Linked DNA regions of Homo sapiens: region 2 is linked to region 1. Evidence: fine-mapped expression QTL. A gene starts in region 1. The other region holds a variant in brackets. All regions are shown on one strand. Distances are between the middles of the regions.

The links. PIP is the estimated chance that this variant, and not a neighbour inherited with it, causes the effect. A credible set is the group of variants that fine-mapping cannot tell apart.
Region 2: its variant is the best candidate, but not a certain one, in a credible set for the expression of HHAT in caudate (GTEx, PIP 0.73).

What each region holds. Positions count from the first base shown.
Region 1 is chr1:210,326,083-210,331,457 of GRCh38, forward strand. It overlaps HHAT (hedgehog acyltransferase), which reads left to right and starts at 2,820. Exons shown (of 12, transcript NM_018194.6): 1 at 2,820-3,022. RefSeq lists enhancers at 1,993-2,162, 3,037-3,396, 4,509-4,678 and a silencer at 2,627-2,876.
Region 2 is chr1:210,380,277-210,385,651 of GRCh38, forward strand. The region is part of intron 3 of HHAT (hedgehog acyltransferase); the gene reads left to right. Among named protein-coding and RNA genes, the nearest start is that of HHAT, 54 kb to the left of the region's middle. The variant A/G (reference allele first, on the strand shown) is at 3,331.

The DNA of each region.
Region 1 (5,375 bases):
TTGCCAACTTAATGTGTGAAAATTGTGTGTTCTTGTTTTTTTTTTTTTTTTTTTTTTTTTTGAGACGGGGTCTTGCTCAGTCACCCAGGCTGGAGTGCAGTGGCACGATCTCGGCTCACTGCAACCTCTGCCTCCCGGGTTCACGCCATTCTCCTGCCTCAGCCTCCCGAGTAGCTGGGACTACAGACACCCGCCACGATGCCTGGCTAATTTTGTTTTTGTATTTTTAGTAGAGACGGGGTTTCACCACGTTAGCCAGGATGGTCTTGATCTCCTGACTTCGTGATCCACCCACCTTGGCCTCCCAAAGTGCTGGGATTACAGGCGTGAGCCACCATGTTCTTGTTTTACTATGCATTTCATTGAGCTTTTTGCAATATATTTTTGTTTCCTACTTTTATTTCCCTCCTCCTTTTTCTAGTGGGTTGTCTATAAATGTGTCTTGCTCATCTATAATTGATTTCTAATGTTTTCTTATTGATTGTATTAACTCTATATATAATTTTAAAATTAACACTTTGCAAATTTCTTGCAAATATCCCAGTCTATTGCTTATCTTTAAATTTTGGCTATTATGGCCAAGCATGGTGGCTCACACCTGTAATCCCAGCACTTTGGGAGGCTGAGGCAGGTGCATCACTTGAGGCCAGGAGTTCGAGACCAGCCTGGCCAACAAGGCAAAACCCTGTCTCTACTAAATAGCCAGGTGTGGTGGCTGGTGCTTGCCTGTAATCCCAGCCACTCAGGTGGCTAAGGCACAAGAATTGCTTGAATCTGCAGTGAGCTGAGATCATGCCACTGTGCTTAGCCTGGGTGACACAGTGAGACTGTCTCTAATACATACATATATATATATATATATATATATATATATATACACACACACATAAATTTTGGCTATTTTTATTTGATGTTTCTGATTGCCTGTGTTTAAATCTGCCTTTATCTCCTTTGTGTTCGCCGGTGAATTTAAAGTGCATATGTAGACAGGGGTTAAGTGTAAATCACACTGAACCTATATTAACAACAGCATCTTTTAGAAATAATATAGGAGCTGTTATCACATCCCTGTCCCTGAGTTTGACACTACCTGAGTTGAGTTCTTATTCTGCCACTCCCTCTGCCAAACCCTTGGATCTAGAGTTGACAGATAAAATACCCAGTTAAGTTTGATTTTCAGATACCCAGGATGTAAATTTGAATTTCAGATATACCATTTTTTTTTTTTTTTTTTGGTAGAGATGGAGTTTCATCATGTTGGCCAGGCTGGTCTCGAACTCCTGGATTCAAGTTATCTACTCACCTCGACCTCCCAAAGTGCTGGGATTACAAGCTTCCTGTAAGTACTTAAAAAAAATAAGTATATCCCAAATATTGCATGGGTCATAGTGATACTAAAAAGTTACATATTGTTCACCTGAAATTATTTACTTATTTTTTTGAGACAGAGTCCGGCTCAGTCACCCAGGTTGGAGTGCAGTGGTGCGATCTGAGCTCACTGCAACCTCTGCCGCCCGGGTTCAAGCGATTCTCGTGCCTCAGCCTCCCAAGTGGCTGGGATTACAGGTGCAGGCCACCACACCCGGCTAATTTTTGTATTTTTAGTAGAGACGGGGTCTCACCATGTTGGCCAGGCTGGTCTCAAACTCCTGGCCTCAAGTGATCCTCCTGCTACCGCTCCTAAAGTGCTGAGATTACAGGCGTGGGCCACCGCGCCCAGCCTGAAATTCAATTTTAATTGAGTATGCTGTATTTTTATTTGCTAAATCTGGCACTCCTATTTGGGGCTAGTTTACTAACACCTGCTTACTGAACACCATCCAGTACCAGGTTTTGGGGTGAGTGGGTTGGGGGGAAGCAGAAAGAAAAGATAGCTCCAGCTCTTGGAGAGTTCATACTCTGGTTTCCTGGAGAATTCTAAAATCATTAAAATAATCCTCTCGACCATTACAATGACTGCTAGATGAAATTTCTGAGAGCACAGCTTCCGAGTTTCCCTGCTGCCTAGGGCAGAGTTATCCACCTTCACCTTATCATAGAACCACCTGAGACGCCCCTGCCATGGACAGTCTGATGCTTTTGGTTTGGGGAGGGATCCAGAAGCCCGAGGTTTTAATGAGAGCCACGTGATTCTGCTGAGATAAGTCTGGAGAACTCTGGCAAGCCTGTCTCTTGGCTCAGGCTTGGAGGCCTCCGAGCAGCAACATCGTCCCAATTATACCCCGTTGGAGCATCTTCAGATCTTCCACTCTTTTCACAACGCAATCAAAATCTTCGTACCCATTTTGCAGTAGTGATCTCTGTAAGTTGCTTTACAATTCATAAAGTTTATTCTATTTGATCTTCACTCTAATTTACAAAGAAAAGCAGGGAAGTCTATTTCTGTTTTACAGAGGTGTACAGGGAGGCTCACAGGGGCTAAGTTCACACAGTAAGCCCTCGAAGCTGCCAGGGCTGCAAAGCCCACCCTCTTTCCACCGCACCGAACTACCTCCTTTCGCCTACAAAACGTAGGTGGGGACCACTGGTGTTGGAATGACGGCCCACCTCGAGTTTCAGGTGACTTCCACTCTGCAATTAACTTGCAGGCAGCCCCAGACCTGCAATGAACACACGGGTGGGGGAGAGATATGCACGCCAGGGTCAGTGGGAACCAACAGCCGAGGGGTGAGCGGGGCTAGGGGCCCCGGGCCGCCGGCGGGGCAAACGCGGTTCAGAAACGCAGGCCGCGCTCTGGCCCGCCCCCTGCAGCAGCACGGCCTGCTCGCCATCGCCCGGAGAGCGCCGCGGGTTCCCGAGTCCGGGCGCGGAGGGCGCGCGGGCACGGCGGCAGGGGCGTGCTCGGAGGACGCGCGCTGCGCTGCTCCTCCAAAGGGCAGCTCCGGGGGAAAGAGGGTGGCGTCCCGGGGAAGCCCGCAGCCGCCGCCGATGTCGCTGGGACTCGGAAGTGCCGAAAGAGGGGTGTTGGGAACTCGCGGCGCGCGTGAACGTTGCCGTCGCCGCCGCCCGGGACAGCCCGGAGGTTGGTAACTGGTGACCATAGGGGGTCCTGGGGAGGTTAGATGCTGAATTTTCTGCGTCAGTTTACTCTGTTAAAAAAAAAATGCACAAAACGCTTTCCGTTTCCTACCCAAGTTCCCGTGTGCGCGCCCGAGGGCGGGACAGAGGAAGTTCCCGGTCGGGCGAAGAAGACAAAAGCGGCGGGGGCCGCGCGCGCAGTGCGCCCGGGCAAAGGCGGGGATCTAGGCGCCGGGACAAGTCCGCGCACGGCCCTGCCCACGTCCTCTCTCCTTGGCTTCGTCCCCAGCTTCCGGAACTGCTGCGGGGAGTTGCGAACTCTGGTCCTCTTGGCAGTATCGGCGGTGCGCCTGCCTGCCTGCTGTGACTCCAGGGACTCTAAAGTTAGAGACTTCCTTTGCGTTCTATCTTCAGGACTCAGTTTTCTTCCTCTGTTCTGAGTCTAACCTTCAGGTGGCAGGTCTTTATGCGGAAAAACCCTCCCGCTAATCCTCACCAGAGGTACTTTACGGGTAGCATTGGTGTTAAGAAATGTGCTGCTACCTGTGTACATTGCTCTTGGATCAGGGTTGTAGGGCTAGGGCATTTGGCATCCTCAGAGGTTTGCATTACGTGGGAGTGAGACATTGCTTCTCTTTCTGTTTTTGTTGTTGTTTGTGTTTTTGAGGCGGAGTTTCGCTCTGGTCGCCCAGGCTGGAGTGCAATGGCACAATCTCAGCTCACTGCAACCTCAGCATCCCGGTTTCAAGCGATTCTCCAGCCTTGCCTCCTGAGTAGCTGGGATTACAGGCATGCGCCACCACGCCCACCTAATTTTGTATTTTTAGTAGAGACGAGGGTCTCACCGTGTTGGCCAGGCTGGTCTCGAATTCCTGACCTCGGGTGATCTGCCCACCTCGACCTCCCAAAGTGCTGGGATTACAGGCGTGAGCCACCGTGCCTGGCATCTCATTCATTCTCAGAGCTAAGGACCTATTTCAATGTGATTAAGTGCTATGGGAATGCAAGGAGAGGAGAGGGAAGGCTTCATTGAAGAGGCGGTAGTTCATTGAAGGAGACTTTGAGGAATGATTTTTTTCCCCTTCCATTCCTCATGTTCCATTTTCCCTGTGATTTTTCTCCCTCCTTTCTCGTTGCCAGTCAGTCCCTAATTGTGATTGTTTGATAAGGACAGCTCTGACCTGAGAGATTCAATTAATGTTAATTTAAGGAGACTGTGTGCTTATTAGGTGCTTTAGATACATTATTTCTAAACCTTACAGTAACTGGGAAAGATAAGTGTTGTTATCTCTTTTCACAGTAGGATAGAGAAAGCCTTGGAGGGGAGCCAAAGCCACAAACTAGTACATGTCAGGGCCGGGTTTTGGACTCCTCTTTTGGATCAACGCCTGTGCTTTATCTACTGTTTACTTTGCCCCCTCCTTGGAAGTAGGTTAGATGGATGAACTTAGGGTGAAAGTCAATTCTTTGGAGGGAGCAGCCGTTTTTGTGGGTGGCCAGATGTTGGTGGGAGCTCTGTAGGTAGCATCAGGAACTTGCGAGCATGGGCCTTACCTGCACCCCCTGCTTCCAGCTTAGGACCTGGCCCAGGGGGAATGTTCCCTAAAGCAGTGGTCCCCAACCTTTTTGGCACCAAGGACCGGTTTCATGGACAATAAGTTTTTCATGGACTGGGGGAAGGGGGATGGTGTTGGGATAATTCAAGCACGTTACATTTATTTTATTTATTTGTTTTGAGACAAGAGTCTCGCTGGGTCACCCAGGCTGGAGTGCAGTGGCACGATACTGGCTCACTGCAACCTCCACCTCTGGGGATCAAGCAATTCTCGTGCCTCAGCCTCCGGAGTAGCTTACAGGCATGCGACACCACATCTGGCTAATTTTTGTATTTTTAGTAGAGACAGGATTTCACCATGTCAACCAGGCTGGTCTCAAATTCCTGAGCTCGAACTCCTGAGCTCAAGCCATCCTCTCCTTGGCCTCCCAAAGTGCTGGGATTACAGGTGTGAATCACCATGCCCCACCTGCATTACATTTATTGTGGACTTTATTTCTATTATTATTACATTGTAATATGAATACAACTCACCATAGAGTAGAATCAGTGGGACCCCTGAGCTTGTTTTTCTGCAACTAGGCAGTCCCATCTGGGGGGGTGTGTTGGTAGACATTGACACCCAAAGTGTGTTTGCTTATGTCCAGCCTACTTCATAGTCTCATTTTGGTTGCTGTCACTGCAGAAGACCCTGCTTCACAAAGATAGGATGTTGGAAATGGAAGCAGGCTTTTCGGTGCTTTTGTGGCAATTTCAGGATACTTTGCCTTGACTTTAATCCAGAATGTATGGATATTTGAAG
Region 2 (5,375 bases), 54 kb after region 1:
ACGCCTATAATCCCAGCACTTTGGGAGGCTGAGGAGGGTGGATCACTTGCAGTCAGGAGTTCAAGATTAGCCTGGCCAACGTGGTGAAACCCTGTCTCTACTAAAAATACAAAAATTAGTTGGGCATGGCAGTGTGCACCTGTAATTCCAACTTCTTGGGAGCTGAAGCAGGAGAATCACTTGAACTCAGGAGGCGGAGGTTGCAGTGAGCCGAGATCATGCCACTGCACTCCAGCCTGGGCGACAGAGCAAGACTCTGTCGCAAAAAATAAATAAAATAAAATAAAATTTTAAAAAGCACAATGGGATAAGTTGCTTTGTTACAGGTAACCGTAGTGGCATATTGTGGGAGCATAGGCAAGGGACACCGAGTCCAGGCTGAATGGATGGACTACTAAAGGCTTCCTGGGAGAAGGCTTGCCTGAGCTGAGACCTGAAAGATATGTCCTCATTCACATGATGCTTCAGTGATGGTTTTTCCAAATAGAGGGAGCAAAGTGTGGGAGGCCCAGCTGCATGAATGTGGTGCTGTGGGGTCAGAGGGGTCAATGCAGTTGTAATGTGGGATGGTGGGGGCAGTGAAGGTTAGGTACGACGATGGAAGGGTGGACAGGGGGACAGGGCCATTTTATGAAGAACTGCATGAGTCTCACTGAGAAGTTTCTCTGGAATGCTAAGGGGAGCACATGAAGAATATTAAGTGGGGGAAATAACATGATCAAATATGCTCTTAAAAATATTACTTTGGTGCTGTGTAGGGAGCATGGAATGGAAGGAATAAGGCTAAATGGGTAGAAGTGAGTAGAGCACAGTCTGCGGAATTGAAGTAGGTCTAGCATATAGTACGGGGAGGAAAACGATTTTGCAGTAACTCCAAGACTTTCCTGGATAACAAAGCCTAATTGATATGCTGTGATTGACTATATGAAGCAGCATATACTAGATGCTTAATAAAATTTATTGAAAGATTTGAATGATTATGCAGTGGGTCATTTAAAAAAATTTTTTACTTTTATTTTTCTGAGACAGAGTCTTGCTCTGTTACCTAGGTTGGAGTGCAGTGACATGATCTCAGTTCACTGCAACCTCCACCTCCCAGGTTCAAGTGATTTTCATGTCTCAGCCTCCCGAGTAGCTGAGATTGTAAGTATGCGCCAGCACTCCCAGCTAATATTTGTATTTTTAGTAGAGATGGGGTTTCACCATGTTGGCCAGGCTGGTCTCGAGCTCCTGGCCTCAAGCTATCCACCCACCTTAGCTTTCCAAAGTGCTGGGATTACAGGCATGAGCTACTGCACCCGGCCTCAAATCATTTTTAAGGCTTACCCATGGCCTTTCTTAGACTCTGCTTCATTTGTAGATGTAAACTTCTGAGCTGATAGCAAACTATCTGCAAATACCATCCATAGACATAATAAAACAGTGCTCCTGACCCATCTCACTAGGAGATAAACAGTGGAACTATTCAGCAGGTCATGGACTGATTACAAAAAAAATCCAAAAAGACTCCAAAAACAGTGGGACCAGGGATCTGGGTTGAAGAACTGGTGGACTGAGCTAACTGATGTGGCTACAGGGTGAATTTCTCTCATTCACTTAGGGCGTCTCGGTGAGTGCCTTGGCACTTGGCTTGGTACTTTACATTTTAGTCTATTGACCAGGCCTTATTAGCTATGCGTTTGTGTTGTTTTCAGCTGGAGAATAGTCCTCAGTTTTCTGGGGAATGCAAGAGAAAGCACAGAACCAGAATTTTAGCCATCTCTTGTGATAACAACACAGTACTCCAGCTAAGAGGCTGAGAGTGAGTTGTGATCTGGCAAGGTTTAAGGGCGATGAGAATTCAAGGCTAGAAGGAGGAAAGATTTACTCAGTGGTGAGTTGCTAGGGCAAGTCCTCATTTGCCAGGAATTTTTTCTTGTAACTTTCTTCCCTAGTGACATAGGGGTGTGAGAAGAGGGGACGACCCCTTCTCCACGGGTGGGTGACAAGCACTTTCTTAGTATTTCTTTCCTTTAGCCTAGAAAATAATTGTCTTTCCCATTTTCTGAAAGGAATCTTAGACATTGTGCTAGTGGAGCCCTTCATTTTACACACAAGGAAATTCAATCCCAGATAGTTAAGTGACTTTTCCAAGTTTAAACAGAGGGAGAAATGTGACAAGTACTAGATAGGCTGATTTTTTGGCTCCGTTCCTGCTCCTCGCCATTTTAAAGGCTTGCTGAATGTTGGGCATCTAGGAGACAGATTTAAGTCAAGGTTCTTGCTCTCAGAGAGATCCATTTTTCCCTCCAGAGAGAAAATACAGGAATAAAAGTGATATAATAAATATGCCATAATAAAAGTTCTAGAATTGAGATGTGGATGACGGAGAAGGGAGTGCAATGAGGTCCACCTGGGGAGGTAGGTATGGGAAAGCTTCACTCTGGAGCTGACATTTGAATTGTACCATTTAGTGAGTATTTTGTGCATGTCACTGGGCTGGCTTTGTGGTTACGGGGCATAAATGAGGTGCACTCTAGGTTGGAGATTGCCTAGTCAAATAGTGTTGTGGGGCAAAGGGGTGGGAAGGGCAGAAAGTCCAGGTACAGGGACAAGCATGAGTAGAAACATCTCAGAAAAGGGTTTCCTCCTTGGCTTCAGACAGGCCTAGGTTTGAAACCCGGCTCTGCCCCTTACTAGGTTTGGATAAATAATCTGCTTTCTCTGACCTCCAGTTAACTCATTTGTAACACGGAGTTAGACAGAACTACTCAAAAAAGAAAAAAGAAAAAGTGAGCTTCAGGCCGGGCACGGTGGCTTATGCCTGTAATCCCAGCACTTTGGGAGGCTGAGGCTGGTGGATCTCTTGAGGTCAGGAGTTCGAGACCAGCCTGGACAATGTGGTGAAACCCCGTATCTACTAAAACTACAAAAATTAGCCAGGTGTGGTGGTATGCACCTGTAGTCCCAGCTACTTGGGAGGCTGAGGCACGAGAATCACTTGAGCCTGGGAGGCAGAGATTGCAGTGAGCCGAGGTTGTGCTATTGCACTCCGGCCTGGGCAGCAGAGCGAGACTGTCTCAAAAAAGAGCTTCAAATCACTGACGAAATAAAAAGAAAAAAACCCAAAACTTATTTATTTCAGCTACATGACATCCTGGAAAAAGTAAAATATGGAGACAGTAAAAAGATCATTGTTTGCCAGGGATTGAGGGGAGCAGGGCCAGGGTGGGAGGGATGAAGAGGTAGAGTACAGAGGATTTTTAGGGCAGTGAAACTATTTCATATGATATGATAATGGTGGATATGTGTTTTTATACATCTGTCCAAACCCATAGAATATGCAACATC[A/G]AGAGTGAACCCGAATATAAACCATGGACTTTGGGGTATCAATGTAGGTTCACCAGTTGGAACAAATATATTACTGTGGTGGGAGATGCTGATGGAGAGGGGTTAAGGGGTCTATGGGAATTCTCTGTACATTGTGCTTAATTCTTCTGTGAACTGAAAACTCTCTAAAAGATAAGGTCTGTTAAACAAATTGAGCTACTTTAAAGATTGTTATGAGGCTGTAATTAGAAAACACATACTCGAGTGTTCATCAGTGACTGGGAAGAAAGGACAGGTCTGTCAGTTTCACTGACATATGAAGTTGAGTTGCAGCACTGTTACCCCTCTCATTCTGCAGTGGGTTTTTGGTGTGTCTTCATTGTGGGGTGTGGTGGTCTTGGTGCTGGGGGTCTTCCTATTTAGACTTTGAGCTCCTCATGGTGCCTAGAGCAGAACTCTGCTGTGGGTAGGAAAAGAGGCAGTTACAAACACTAGGCCCAGACCCTTTCCTTTGTTAAGAAAGGAAAAAGTGTTTTGCTAGGACGTTAGAGTTACTATTTAAGAAACCCAGAACAATCATGTCTCTCAGAGTCCTTAGTATTACCTGGTAGCAGAATGTAAGCCTCAGAATAAACAACCACATTTGTTAACTTGTTCAGTGAATTCCGAAGTCTGGGTGCCCAGAGCTTTGAACGGTGAACGGGAGGATGACTGCTCTGTTGGTGAGTGTTAGGTAGCAGCTTCGGAGTATGTGCCCTCCCTGCCTGGGAATGGTACGGGGCGGGCTGAGCTGTTAAGGATTCTGTGAGTTTATGAACATTCAGCTGTAGGAAGGCATAATCAGTCATGTAGATTGGTCCCCAGGCTGGTAGTATCACATCACCTGGAAGCTTGTTAGAAATATAGAATCCCAGGCCCCACCCTTGATTGACTGCATCAGAATCTGCATTTTAGCAAGATGCATAGGTGGCTTGTGTCCACTTTGAGGTTGGATGTGGGTGACTTCTCCTTGGAGTACAGCCTCCCTGCTTCCATGGAGAAGCCTGCCTAGTTCTGCCTGGCTGAGATTTAGCTCCAGTTTATATCTGACCCCCTTAGAGTGCCAAAGAAGAGGTTCCTAATTGACTAATAACCATGGAGGCAAGAAAGAAAATGGGGGAAGGGACAGATCATGATGTTGTTCCTGATTTCAGGCTTTCATGTTTGCCTTGAAATGTGTGACTGAGCTCAGAGTCTATAAAGCTTTTGCTTCAAGAAGCAGTGAGTCAATATTTTTCTTACCCAAATCATTAAACATCATCTTGACCTATTCATTGGCCCAGCTTTTCTGTTTGGTCATTTCCCTTAGGTAACTTTTTTAAATAGGGAAGAATAGACATGAGAGAGACATTTTTATTTCCTTTAAATGAATGTTTTCTGTGATAATTAGAGGTGAAAGGCCATGTGTAATTTTTGTTGATGGGATTTTACCAGCAGAGTTTTCAGGAGTCCTGGACTTTCTGGTGGAACAGAAAGTCTTATATGTTTTGTTGTATTATATCCTTTTTTCCACCCTAAAAAATTAAACTTGGAGAAGTTTCGAGGCATAGGTAAGCTTGGGGTCATGAATTCTAAATGTAATTCTAAGTGTTCAAAAATGTTGTATTTAAAAAGCTCATATGTTTTTCTTTTTTTTTTTTTTTCTTTTTGAGTTTGTATTAAAAAAGTGTCTTGGCTTTTGTGTCTTTTAGCTGTATCCCTGTTATAAAAGTGGTATTTTACTAGCATGGCCTCATCACATGACCTTTGAACTTATTTACATTTGTTTAGTTAATTGACTCTTGGCTAATTTGGAAATCTCTAGATGGGGAAATAAGCTGTGGATCAGGGATCAGGAGCCAGGTTAAAGCTTTGAGTTCTCTGCTGTGCTGCCTGGCTGTGTGTTTGTGGGCATGTCCCAGACTCTGGTGTAGTCATCTCTAAATGGAAGCAATTCAACTACATACATGATTTCCAGCAAGGGACAGGGGCTTTATGAGCAGGTCATGTATCAGGATCTGGGGTGTGGGGAGCATGTGTAATCTGAG